Homo sapiens: one gene and its partners. The protein of the gene in region 1 purifies or fractionates together with the protein of each later gene. This does not show direct contact. Each region holds a gene or a part of one and is shown in the gene's direction. Other genes may lie near its edges.

What was found.
Region 2: the proteins of SRCIN1 (region 1) and RIMS1 purify together in Homo sapiens (co-immunoprecipitation; one large-scale study listed by IntAct). This does not show direct contact.
Region 3: the proteins of SRCIN1 (region 1) and CKAP5 fractionate together in Homo sapiens (co-fractionation; one large-scale study listed by BioGRID). This does not show direct contact.

What each region holds. Positions count from the first base shown.
Region 1 is NC_000017.11:38,529,448-38,533,023, reverse strand, and holds the end of SRCIN1 (SRC kinase signaling inhibitor 1), read left to right. Parts: 3' UTR 1-2,993; downstream 2,994-3,576. UniProt on the Homo sapiens protein: Acts as a negative regulator of SRC by activating CSK which inhibits SRC activity and downstream signaling, leading to impaired cell spreading and migration. Regulates dendritic spine morphology. Involved in calcium-dependent exocytosis.
Region 2 is NC_000006.12:71,893,045-71,896,698, forward strand, and holds part of RIMS1 (regulating synaptic membrane exocytosis protein 1), read left to right. Parts: intron 1-3,654. UniProt on the Homo sapiens protein: Rab effector involved in exocytosis. May act as scaffold protein that regulates neurotransmitter release at the active zone.
Region 3 is NC_000011.10:46,762,711-46,766,364, reverse strand, and holds part of CKAP5 (cytoskeleton-associated protein 5), read left to right. Parts: intron 1-1,108; coding exon 1,109-1,234; intron 1,235-2,734; coding exon 2,735-2,884; intron 2,885-3,185; coding exon 3,186-3,389; intron 3,390-3,602; coding exon 3,603-3,654. UniProt on the Homo sapiens protein: Binds to the plus end of microtubules and regulates microtubule dynamics and microtubule organization. Acts as a processive microtubule polymerase. Promotes cytoplasmic microtubule nucleation and elongation. Plays a major role in organizing spindle poles.

The sequences.
Region 1 (3,576 bases):
AGCTGGCCTCTCGCTGGCCGCACCTGTCACATCTCTCCTTCTTCTCTTTCACCACTCTTTCCCCCAGTCCATCCTGAAGCTCCTGCACCCCCTTCCCGCCTTCCCCTCACTTCCCAAGAATACTCCAAACAAACTCTGAACCACGGAGACTTGGAGCAGTGGGAGACCCCTCTCCCGTTTCTCGATACCTTCCTGGAGGAACGCGGGGACATCGGACCAACCCATACATCAAGCCAGAGAGCGGGGCTTAGGGAGACTGGCCTTGGAGATGCCCCACTCCCTGTCTAAGCTCCGACAAGACTGTGACTTCCTCTGTGGCTGCTCTGCCTCCTCCCACTCACACCCAAGTGGGCCTGGAGTAGAGACGGACAGGCTGGAGACGAGGCCGGAGTTTGAGAGGCCTCAGGGTGGGTGTGAGGCCATGGAGTCTGTATCCCTGGGGAGGCGCTGGCCTCCTGGGCCTTGCCGTCCAGTGGGGAGTGGAGGGCAGAGGCCCTTTGGTCTGCTGGCTGTGGAGGGTGGGTTGCACGGACAGCCGGATATCGGGGACACTGCCTTGGGAGAGGGCGGCCCGGACGGGTATTTGGTACTTTTAGTTTCCTGATTTAGCACTTTAAATGGCATTAACTTATTGAATGGGGATGGGGTGGGCAAGAGTGAGGGGCCTAGAAAACCAGGTTTTGTGGCTTGCAGTTGGGGGAAGGGTCTGGTTTGAGGGAAATGGGAGGGTCGAGAGGGGCTTGACGGGGAGCACTGAAGACACCTGGGACCCGCAGGTGGGGTGACTTGAACTTCAGTCATCCTCTTGGCAATTTGAGGGTTTTCCCAGGAAAGGATGAGACGTAGTTTTTCAATGGGGCTCTGGTGACCCTGGTGAGATGTCTGAAGGTCCCTGAGGCCTGACCATCCAGCCAGCGCCCCTGGCCTGTGGACGCCCTGCCTGCCCTGCAGAGGCGGTTGGCAGTGCCGCCTGGCTTTTGGCCGGGTCCTGGGGAGGCAGAGAGAGGCCAATTTTGGTTCTCACTCCTGGCCCCCCAGAGGGCACAGTGAGGAGCCGGTAGGGAGAGGATAGGAGAAGAGGAGGAGGAGGAGCGGGGTCCCCGGCCGCAGGATTCCCACTTGGAGCACAAAGTGAAGTAAGCACAGGGGAGGGGGACTAGAATCAGTCCCCCATAGCAAGCACAGAAAGGAGGAGCTGCGCAGAAGGCAGAGCCCCCCAGACCCTGGGGCCTGGCTGGGGAAGGTCCGCACCTGGGGAGAGCTGGGAGCTGTTGAAGGTTTGGGGGGAGGGGAAACGGGTTGTGTTTCTTCATTTCTTTTTTTGTTTTTGCCTTTGTTGGTTCATCCTTGTTTTCTAGCTTTGGATCATTTTTGTACCAAGGCGAGCAAGCCTTTTTGAAAAATAACAAAAGAGGAAAAAAAAAATCCCTCCTGGAAAAAAAAAAAAACCCTGGAAAATAGAAAAAAAAAAAAGGACCTCATAAATGATGCAATTACTTTTAATTGCAGGCAACTCTTTACATTTAAGTGAAGTGTCTTAACATTTTATATTGTTTTAAAAATATATTTACATATTATATATATAATATACGTAATATAAATATATATAAATATTTAAAAAAGAAAAAAAAAAGAAAACCACGGCACTCTCCCTGGCCACTGTTTTGGCGGGGGAGGGGGGCTGGGGGGCGGGCACGTCGGCCTGGCTTCTGTGGTCCCAGTGAAATGGTCTGGTTTGATTTGGCTGTACAGAGACCCCCTGACTTGGGAGGGGAGGGGGGAGTGGTGCCCCCTCCTCCCTCCACTCCATTACTCTCTGCTTGCTACTTCGCTTGCCCCCAGCTCCCACCCTCAGCCCTGTGACTGGAATGTGTGCCCCACCGTCATTGTCCTGAGTTGAATGTCCCTTTGTGGGGGAGGTGGGGGGGGCAGTGTCCATCCACGAAGGGGCAGAAGGAGGGAGCCACGTGCCCCGCCCCACCCGCTCGGGTGAAGCCCAGTGGGATTTGCATCTTTCTTTCTCTTTGGTTCCTGCACATTTATGGGCTGGGAGGCATCCGTGTGGAATTGCGTGCAGCCTGTGTGTGTGCTGGCACAAGCCCATGCACTGTGTGTGCAGACGCATGGGGCCTGCACCCACAGGCATGGCCGAGCACATGTGTGGGGGAAGGCGTGGGCACATAGGTGCATGTAACCTGTTTGGGCATTGGCACGTGCCTACCTGCATGTTAGCGTGAGAGGAGCTTTGTGTGTGAGAACATGTGTAATGTGTGTGCAGACATGCCGAGAGCCAGAGACTTGTGTGTGGGCCACGTACATGTGGATAGAGACGCATACATGGAGGTGCATGTAATCTGTGTCTCCGAGTGTGTGTGTGCAGGTATGTGTGCTGGTGCAGACCCAAGTGTGTGGGTGTGCCTCTGTGTGCGTGTGTTCCATCATCCCTGCACCACTGGCTCCAGATCCCTTCCTGAGCCCCCGTCCCCGCTGGCCCTCTCACAGCCTGCAGCACATCAGTGCCCCCAGCTGCATGCGCCTCGCTGCTCTGTCCATCAGTGTGTGCTTGACCAAGAGAAAACTAAGACGTCTCGGGGGACCCCTGTACCTGGTCCTCTCAGCCCCCGCCCACTGTGCTGTGTTACTCGCATGGGGGATTTCCTGCCCCTTCCACAATATGCTGTTTCCCCAGGAGCCTCAGGCCTGAGGCTCTGAGTGGGGTCCCCAGGGGGCCCCCCGGGGTGAGCCCCGGCTCCACACCCTGCCCCATCCACCCTGTAGGGCCCATGTTGGTGTAGCAGTGATGGCTTCTGTGGATATTCTGTGACCTCTGTCGGTGTAACTTGACAATTTCTAAATGGAAAAGGGTTGCTGTGTTTTCTCTGTCTCTCTTTTTTAATGTCCTTTTTTCTTCTCCCCCGCTCCCTGCTCTCTTTCCTTTTCAGTTTTTCTAGCCAAGTGTTTGGGGCTTTAATAAAACTTGTTTCTTTTTCCTCTCCTGGATCTCCTTCCTATAGGCTGATGTCTCATTATTTCTCTGCTTCACCCTGGAGGATCTGGAAGGTGCTGGGATGGGTGGGGTGGCAGGTGGGGAATCCCTGGCAGCCACTGGCCTTCAGCTGGCAGAGCATGAGGGGGAGGACAGAACAGGGCCCCTGGGATTAGCCAGGTGGGGTGGTGTACACCAGTAATCCCAGCTACTCGGGTGGCTGAGGCATGAGAATCGCTTGAACCCAGGAGGTGGAGGTTGCAGTGAGCCAAGATCGCACCACTGCGCTCCAGCCTGGATGACAGAGCGAGAACCTGTCTCAAAAAACAAAAACAAAACAAAAAAAACCAGTTCTCAGCTTGGCATTCCAGGAGGTGTCCTGCCTAACCCTCACAACCATCGGTGAGGTAGCTACCGGCACTACCTACTCAGGCAAGTGACAAAACTCAGAGATGTTGGGCATCTTACCCAGAGTCATACAACTGGTAGGTTGTAGACAAACCAGTAAGTTTGAATCCAGCTCTGCCTGACACCAAAGCCCACGGTTACCCTGAAACCAAGCAGGGCTGATGACCTCCAGTAGTCCCCTG
Region 2 (3,654 bases), on another chromosome or scaffold:
CATATCCTCCAAATTGCTGTTTCCAAGAAAGGTGCCATTATTATGCTTATTTGTTAAAACTGTAGAACACCAAGATTATATTTTCCAGTAGTCTTTGAAGGTACTAGGGGGCTTGGGAAGATGAGCTCTTGGAGAAGAGCCCACCTATCCTTTCATGCTAGCAATGCAGTGTTGCCAGGGTTGCAGCTCCCAGTGTGAGAATTTGACAAGGAGTTAAAAGGTAAAATGAGTTCAGGGCTTGGTCTGAGACTATATTTACCTTCTTTCTTTTCTTTTTTTTTTTCCCCTCTCATTAAATAGCTCGTACATGTTTTTAGCACAAAAAGCAATGTGGGCAAAGTGATAAAGTTTGAAAGATCTAAAAGGCAATCCTAATTCAAAAATGAGAAGAGAAATTAGCTTGGGGTAATTTCCTCATCTTTTACAGAAAAAAATTTGGAGAAATACAGTAATAATTTTAGTGTCACTGGGTTTAATAAATTCTTCATTTTCAGAATTAGCTGAATAAGGGGTCATGTATATTTGTCAGGTAGTTTTCTTTCATGTCAGTTTACCATTGAGTGATGTAATAAATTGCATGTGTTTAAGAACTTTTTAAGATTCTTTATTGGATGCCTTAGGTTTTCTGTATTTATATTCTCACATTCTTACATCGAGTTTATATACACTTATTTTGACTAGATTACTTTTCTGTGGACAGCAAGAGGGGGTTATTCTGCAGAATTGATTTTAGATGTTTCTGCTTCTGTTGCAATATTGTGAAAACTTCCTGTTCATACGAATGCTTACTTAAAGGCAAAATAGAGCTGTTTAAAAGGAAGGTGACTGTACATGTTGATTTTCCTTTATCTGTTTATACCAATTTCCTGCTATTATTATGTATGGTAACCCCTTCTCTCAATTTTGAGTTTCAACCCGGATGACAAATTATATTGTCTTCCTCTTTTTAAATCTTGCTTTCTCTTCCCCAAATTCTTCATTTATAACTTCAGAAAATCAAGCAATTAACAGTGTTAAAATATATCTCAACAATAAGTAATGCAAGCAAGTGGTAGATATAAAATCTTGATCATTGTTTGGTAAATGGAGAACACTTTTTCTGAGAATGAGGTATTATCAGCCAGGCGTGGTGGCTCACTCCCGTAATCCCAACACTTTGGGAGGCCAAAGCGGGTGGATCACTTGAGCTCAGGAGTTTGAGACCAGCCTGGCCAACATGGTAAAACCCCGTCTCTACTAAAAATACAAAAAATTAACCTGGTATGGTGGAGTGCACCTGTAATCCCAGGTACCCAGGAGGCTGAAGCAGAAGAATCGCTTGAAACCAGGAGGCAGAGGCTGCAATGAGCTGAGATCCTGCCACTGCAGTCCAGCCTGGGCAACAGAGTGAGACTCTGTCTGAAAAAAAAAAGGAAATAAGGTATTCTCTTTTATGGAATCTCAACAGAATGATGCTTTTTATGGCAAAGCTGAATTTAAAATTTCAAAACATTTTTCAAATAATAGTAGTTATGAATTGCGACTTCATACAGGACTGTCTTTATGAGAATTCTCCTTTGAGCCTTGCAAAGAGCAGCCTGCAGTTTACCAAAGACATCTTTAATGTGTGAGAATTTATTTAAATAGATTTTGGGATGTAATATTTTGATATTCCTCTGAGTTTAGATGGCAAAATGAGGTAATGTTACAGAAAGTAATTGCATGTTATTTGTAATATTTTGATAATTCCTCTGATGTTTAGATAGTAAAATAAGGTAATGTTATAGAAAGTAATTTCATGCAATATGTAAGTAATCAATGCACTTAATTATAATATTAGCTATTTTAAAGCATAATGAATGAAAGATATTTTGTGTAATATAGAAAATAATACCATGCTAATGATTTATACATTATTTAGTATTTGTTTGTATTACCCATCATTATGCCAGGTAATTTAATTATCATCTGGAAGATGATAGTATATTTACATAGAGAAGGTATGTAAATTGAAAACCAATTAAGATATCTGTACTGTCATATAAAAGTCTTACACTACTTAGCTTCTTTTAATGGACTCTCATGCATAATATACACACTCACAAGTGGAAACTAATGTAGTAATCTTGATGGAGTTTTCTTGCTGTATTTGCTGGACTTTACATCGTCCATTTGATTAGTTCACAATTTACATACCTACATATGGCTTTCTGTACTTAAAGCAGTATTGCTTAATATTTGAAGACTATTTTTAATCTCAAGAATATATTTTAAAGTTGTAAGTTATTGGTGCACAAGCATTGTGTGCCATATTATTGTTTTTGTTGTTTAAACACAGCTTTTAACCAATGTAACAAGAAACTCTTTGAGGCCGGGTGCGGTGGCTCACGCCTGCAATCCCAGCACTTTGGGAGGCTGAGAAGGGCGTATCACCTGAGGTCAGGAGTTTGAGACCAGACTGGCCAATATGGCGAAACCCCATCTCTACTAAAAATAAAAAAATTAGCCGGCGTGGTGATGCATGCCTGTAATCCCAGCTACTTGGGAGGCTGAGGCAGGAGAATTTCTTGAACCCGGGAGGCGGAGGTTGCAGTAAGCTGAGATTGTGCCTCTGCACTCCAGCCTGGGTGATAGAGCAAGACTCCCTCTCAAAAAAAAAAAAAAAAAAAAAAAAGAAGGAAAGAAAGAAACTCTTTGATAGGATGTCTAGCTGCTAGCTGTTTTGTTTTCAATTTATGTGGTTTTTATTCTGGAAAAAATAGGCAGATTGTATATGAAGTACCTAGGGTATGTAAAAATCAATGTATTGGGTTTCTTTAACTATATGGTAGTATATATCCACATTTAGAGGTTCTATCCAGGTCAGAAAGATTACTTAGCGTATTGGTAGAAAGAGATGAAAACAAAAGTAAAGTAACCAAATGGCTTTTCCTTTTATATTTCACACAGCTTAGCAGATTTATCTTCCTTGGCTATCTCTGTATTGCAATATATTGGAGCTTAAGCCTTCTTTCCTAACCCCTTTGTTTCTGGGAAAAAATGAAGACATTTTACATCCTAGTATCTGGAATAAAGGGATATTGAAATGAACAGTCTCATTTATTTTAGATATTGAAATTTTAGTAAGATCCAAAATCCTAAAGAGATTCTAATTTTATATTATTCATGATTGTGACAGTTTTCATAAAAGTGTAATTTTGAAAAATAAAATACAGTAAAGTCTTCTTATATTGAGAATGGATATTTCAATTTACAGCTGTCTGCATACCCTAGGTCAAATCTAGCCACCTAATATATAGCAACCTGAAGTAAAAACTTGATGCTAGTCTGAAAAAGATATTATGGTCTAAGTATCATGCCAGACACAAGCATTAGAAAGGGATTTTATGGTATTTAGAGCTCCAAAAGCCTAAGCTTTAACAGTCACTATTGGGTACAACTATGATGGATAATCAGTCCAGGGGCTATCTAGTCCCTGACTTCCATAAATGCAGCATAGTTAAAGGCTATAGGAGGTCCACATGCAATAGAAGAGAAATAAACATGGTACCAGGCCACAAGAAGCAGATACTTTTGCTAGTAAGGTTGTGCAAATTAAAAAAAATATGACATACGCACTTTGGGAAAAGACTAAATACTCAAGAACACAAAATAGTGCAAATTGAGTGGTGGTTA
Region 3 (3,654 bases), on another chromosome or scaffold:
TTTAACAAGTGCTTATTTTAGTTTAGATCACGAGTGTTTTGCAGTATTTTTGACTCCGTTCTTAATGCCATAATTTTTTTCCCAATCTTTTTAAACTTACGAAGCAGTTTCATATAAATGATCTCATATTTGTTTGGTCTGAATGACATTAGTGTTTATACTAGAAAGAAATTGTGGCCAACTAGAAATAGTGGCCATGCTACATTTATAATAATAATGATTCCAGTAATGAAATTTGAATTTTACCTTAAATATGTGTACTATTGTTTACTATTTTCTTTCTATCTGATATGAAGATTTTAAATCTTGGATTATTTTTTAAAACCACTTTAGTGACTTAAATATTTAAAGCATTTCTTGTAACTTTCTCTAGAAGCAAGTTCAAAAGGTCTTCAGTTACACTGTTATGATAAGAGATACATTTAAATATCAATGGAAAGAAACAGAAAAGCTTTCAAACTAAGTGTTTGGAAATGTGTAAATGCCATTCAAGATGTCATTAATGGCTGAGGTGGGTGGATCACTTGAGGTCAGGAGCTCGAGACCAGCCTGGACAACATGGTGAAACCCTGTCTCTACTAAAAATACAAAAATTAGCCAGGGGTGGTGGTGGGCGCCTTTGGTCCCACCTACTGAGGAGGCTGAGTCAGGAGAATCACTTGAACCTAGGAGGTGGAGATTGCAGTGAGCTGAGATCACGCCACTGCACTCCAGCCTGGGCGACAGAGTGAGACTCCGTCTCAAAAAAAAAAAAAAAAAAAAAAAGATGTCATTAATATGGAAAGCTATAAATAGTGTTGAAGATTTCAAGAAAACAAAAACAAAAAGTTTGTGACCTAGACTAATGATCAGTAATAGCAGTTTTTCCAACTACATAACATGCCAGTCCAAGAACTAACCAACAGTTACTTAAGAATATTCTCAGAAAAATTTCTAGAGAACCTGTTCAAAAACATATACAAGATTCTGTGATGCATGTTTTTTTCATGTGAAATATCACGTAGAAAGATATCTCTGTTTTCTACAGTGCCCTTTTACTGGGCAGCAGCATCATATTCTTAAGGAGAAGTGGCCAAGCTAATCAGTATTCCCTGAACCTTGGTTGTAGAGTGCACAAGGGAAGAAGATGCCAAGCAAAACCAGCTTAAAGGAGGATGAAGACAAATCCGGGCCTATTTTTATTGTTGTTCCAAATGGAAAAGAGCAAAGGATGAAAGATGAAAAAGGATTGAAGGTAAGGAAGGATTAAGAATCGTCAGGAGATTTTTGCTTGTATTGTTATTCAAGAATAGTTTTGCTGTCTGAATTCATGTTATTGTTTAATATCTAGGAATTAAGTGTTTCTTTTGCTTATAAATTATATTATTTAGTTTATGGGAGCATTAATTCCTACAAAAGAAACTATAGAATAGAGTTATTGCCTATTTTTCCCTGTAAATAGAAATAAATGATTTAGTAGCTTTTTTGGTATCTTCATTGATTTTTTTTTTTAATTAATTGGATGTATAAGCTTCTTCATTAATCCTTCTTTTTAAGACCTTACAAGGCAGACTTTGTGACTGTATAAATGGCTAGTTCAGTCATTTATGTTACTTTGATTTCATTAGATACTTAAATTTGTTTTCAAAATACATAATCTTTTTTAAAAATTATATGCAGTACAGAAAGTGCAAAGTATAGTAAGAAAAGCATGTCTCTGTTCCAGTATCCCTCCACAGGGAGGATATTAGTCCTCATTTTTTCAATGTATTACTCCAGAAATATTTTATACCTCTACTATCATATGTATATTTTTATATAGCCCTCCTTTTATACAGATGGCATATACAGACATGCCGTACTGTTTGTTCTGTATCTCACTATTTTCTTTTAATGATGTTTGAAATATCTGAAAGATCATTCGTATCTGTGTATATATGTGTGTATCACTGTTTGTATTGGTGCATTGTATGTATGTACCTTTCTTTATCCTTCGCCCACTATGTTGGACATTTAGGTTGTTTCTGGTCTTTCACTATTACAAACACTGCTGCTGTGAATATCTTTGAATGTAGGTCTTTGTACACATATGTGAGTGTATCTATATTAAACTCCTAGAATGATGATATGCATAATTTTGATAGATATTTCAAATTTTCTCTCTATCAAAGATGTGGCAGCAGTGTCCACCATGTTATATAGTTATATGTAGGATTAATTTTTTTTTTTTCTTTAGTAAGAATTGCAAGGCCAGGCACAGTGGCTCATGCCTGTCATCCCAACAATTTGGGAGGCTAAGGCAGGCAAATTGCCTGAGCCCAGGAATTCAAAACCAGCCTGGACAACATATTGAGACTTCATCTCTACGAAAAAAATTTTTTAATTAGCTGGGCATAGTGGTGCATGTCTGTAGTCCCAGCTACTTGGGGGGCTAAGGCAGAAGAATCACTTGAGCCTGGGAGGTTAATGCTACAGTGATCTATGATCATGCCACTGCACTCTGCCATGCCCAGGCAACAGGTGAGACTCTGTCTCAAAAACAAACAATTCCAAAAATTTTTATTCCTAGAAGATTTTCAGAGTTGTTAAGCTTCAAGAAGTATGACACCTTGAAATTTGCATTCATATTTAATTACAAATGAATATTGTTGAATTTTTAAATATTTTATTGTTCCTGCAGCTGCATTATATAAGGCTCTCTACCTCATTTCAGTTGAACACCCTGTAGCCCCTTTTCACCGTTTGTTTTTTCCAGGTGCTAAAGTGGAATTTTACTACCCCACGGGATGAATACATTGAGCAACTAAAGACTCAAATGTCTAGCTGTGTGGCTAAATGGTTACAAGATGAGATGTTTCACTCAGACTTTCAGCATCATAACAAAGCCCTTGCTGTTATGGTTGATGTAAGTCTGCAATAGATAAATATACATGTATTTCAGACATGTAAAAATACCGAGCCCTATGAAATAATCTGAAGTTTGCATGACTTGGAAGTAGAATATACTATGTTCTCTATTTTTAGAGCTGTCTTGTTATTTGGTAGAATAAATGAATGTGTGTGTATATTTTTTAGGTCTTAATTGAAGGCTTAAAAATCTGTCATTTTCTTTTTGGGCTCCAATAAAATTTAAAAGACACTTGCCTAGTAGAATTAAGATTTTGATTATTCTTATTTGTGGGAGTTTTGTTTTGTTTTATTTTAAGCACTTGGAGAGTGAAAAAGAAGGAGTTATTGGTTGCCTGGATCTTATCTTAAAGTGGCTTACCCTGAGGTTTTTTGACACCAATACAAGCGTCCTGATGAAAGCACTAGAATATTTAAAATTGCTCTTCACCTTGCTAAGTGAAGAAGAATATCATCTTACTGAGAATGAAGCATCTTCCTTCATCCCCTATCTTGTCGTCAAGGTAATGTGGTGTTCTCTCTCTGGGAGACTGCTTAAGTTCCCAGCTGACCTCAGTTTCTGTACTTTTATTTCCTCTCCCTTTTTTACTGATTATATCACGGTACCTTCCCTACTTATCCCTATTTCCCTATTCTTTCAAAACATAGTAATGCATGGGAGAATCATTGCTACTTAGGAAATGCCTCACTTAATCATTATTTTCCTTATCGACTAGGTTGGAGAACCAAAGGATGTCATTCGTAAAGATGTTCGTGCCATCCTGAACC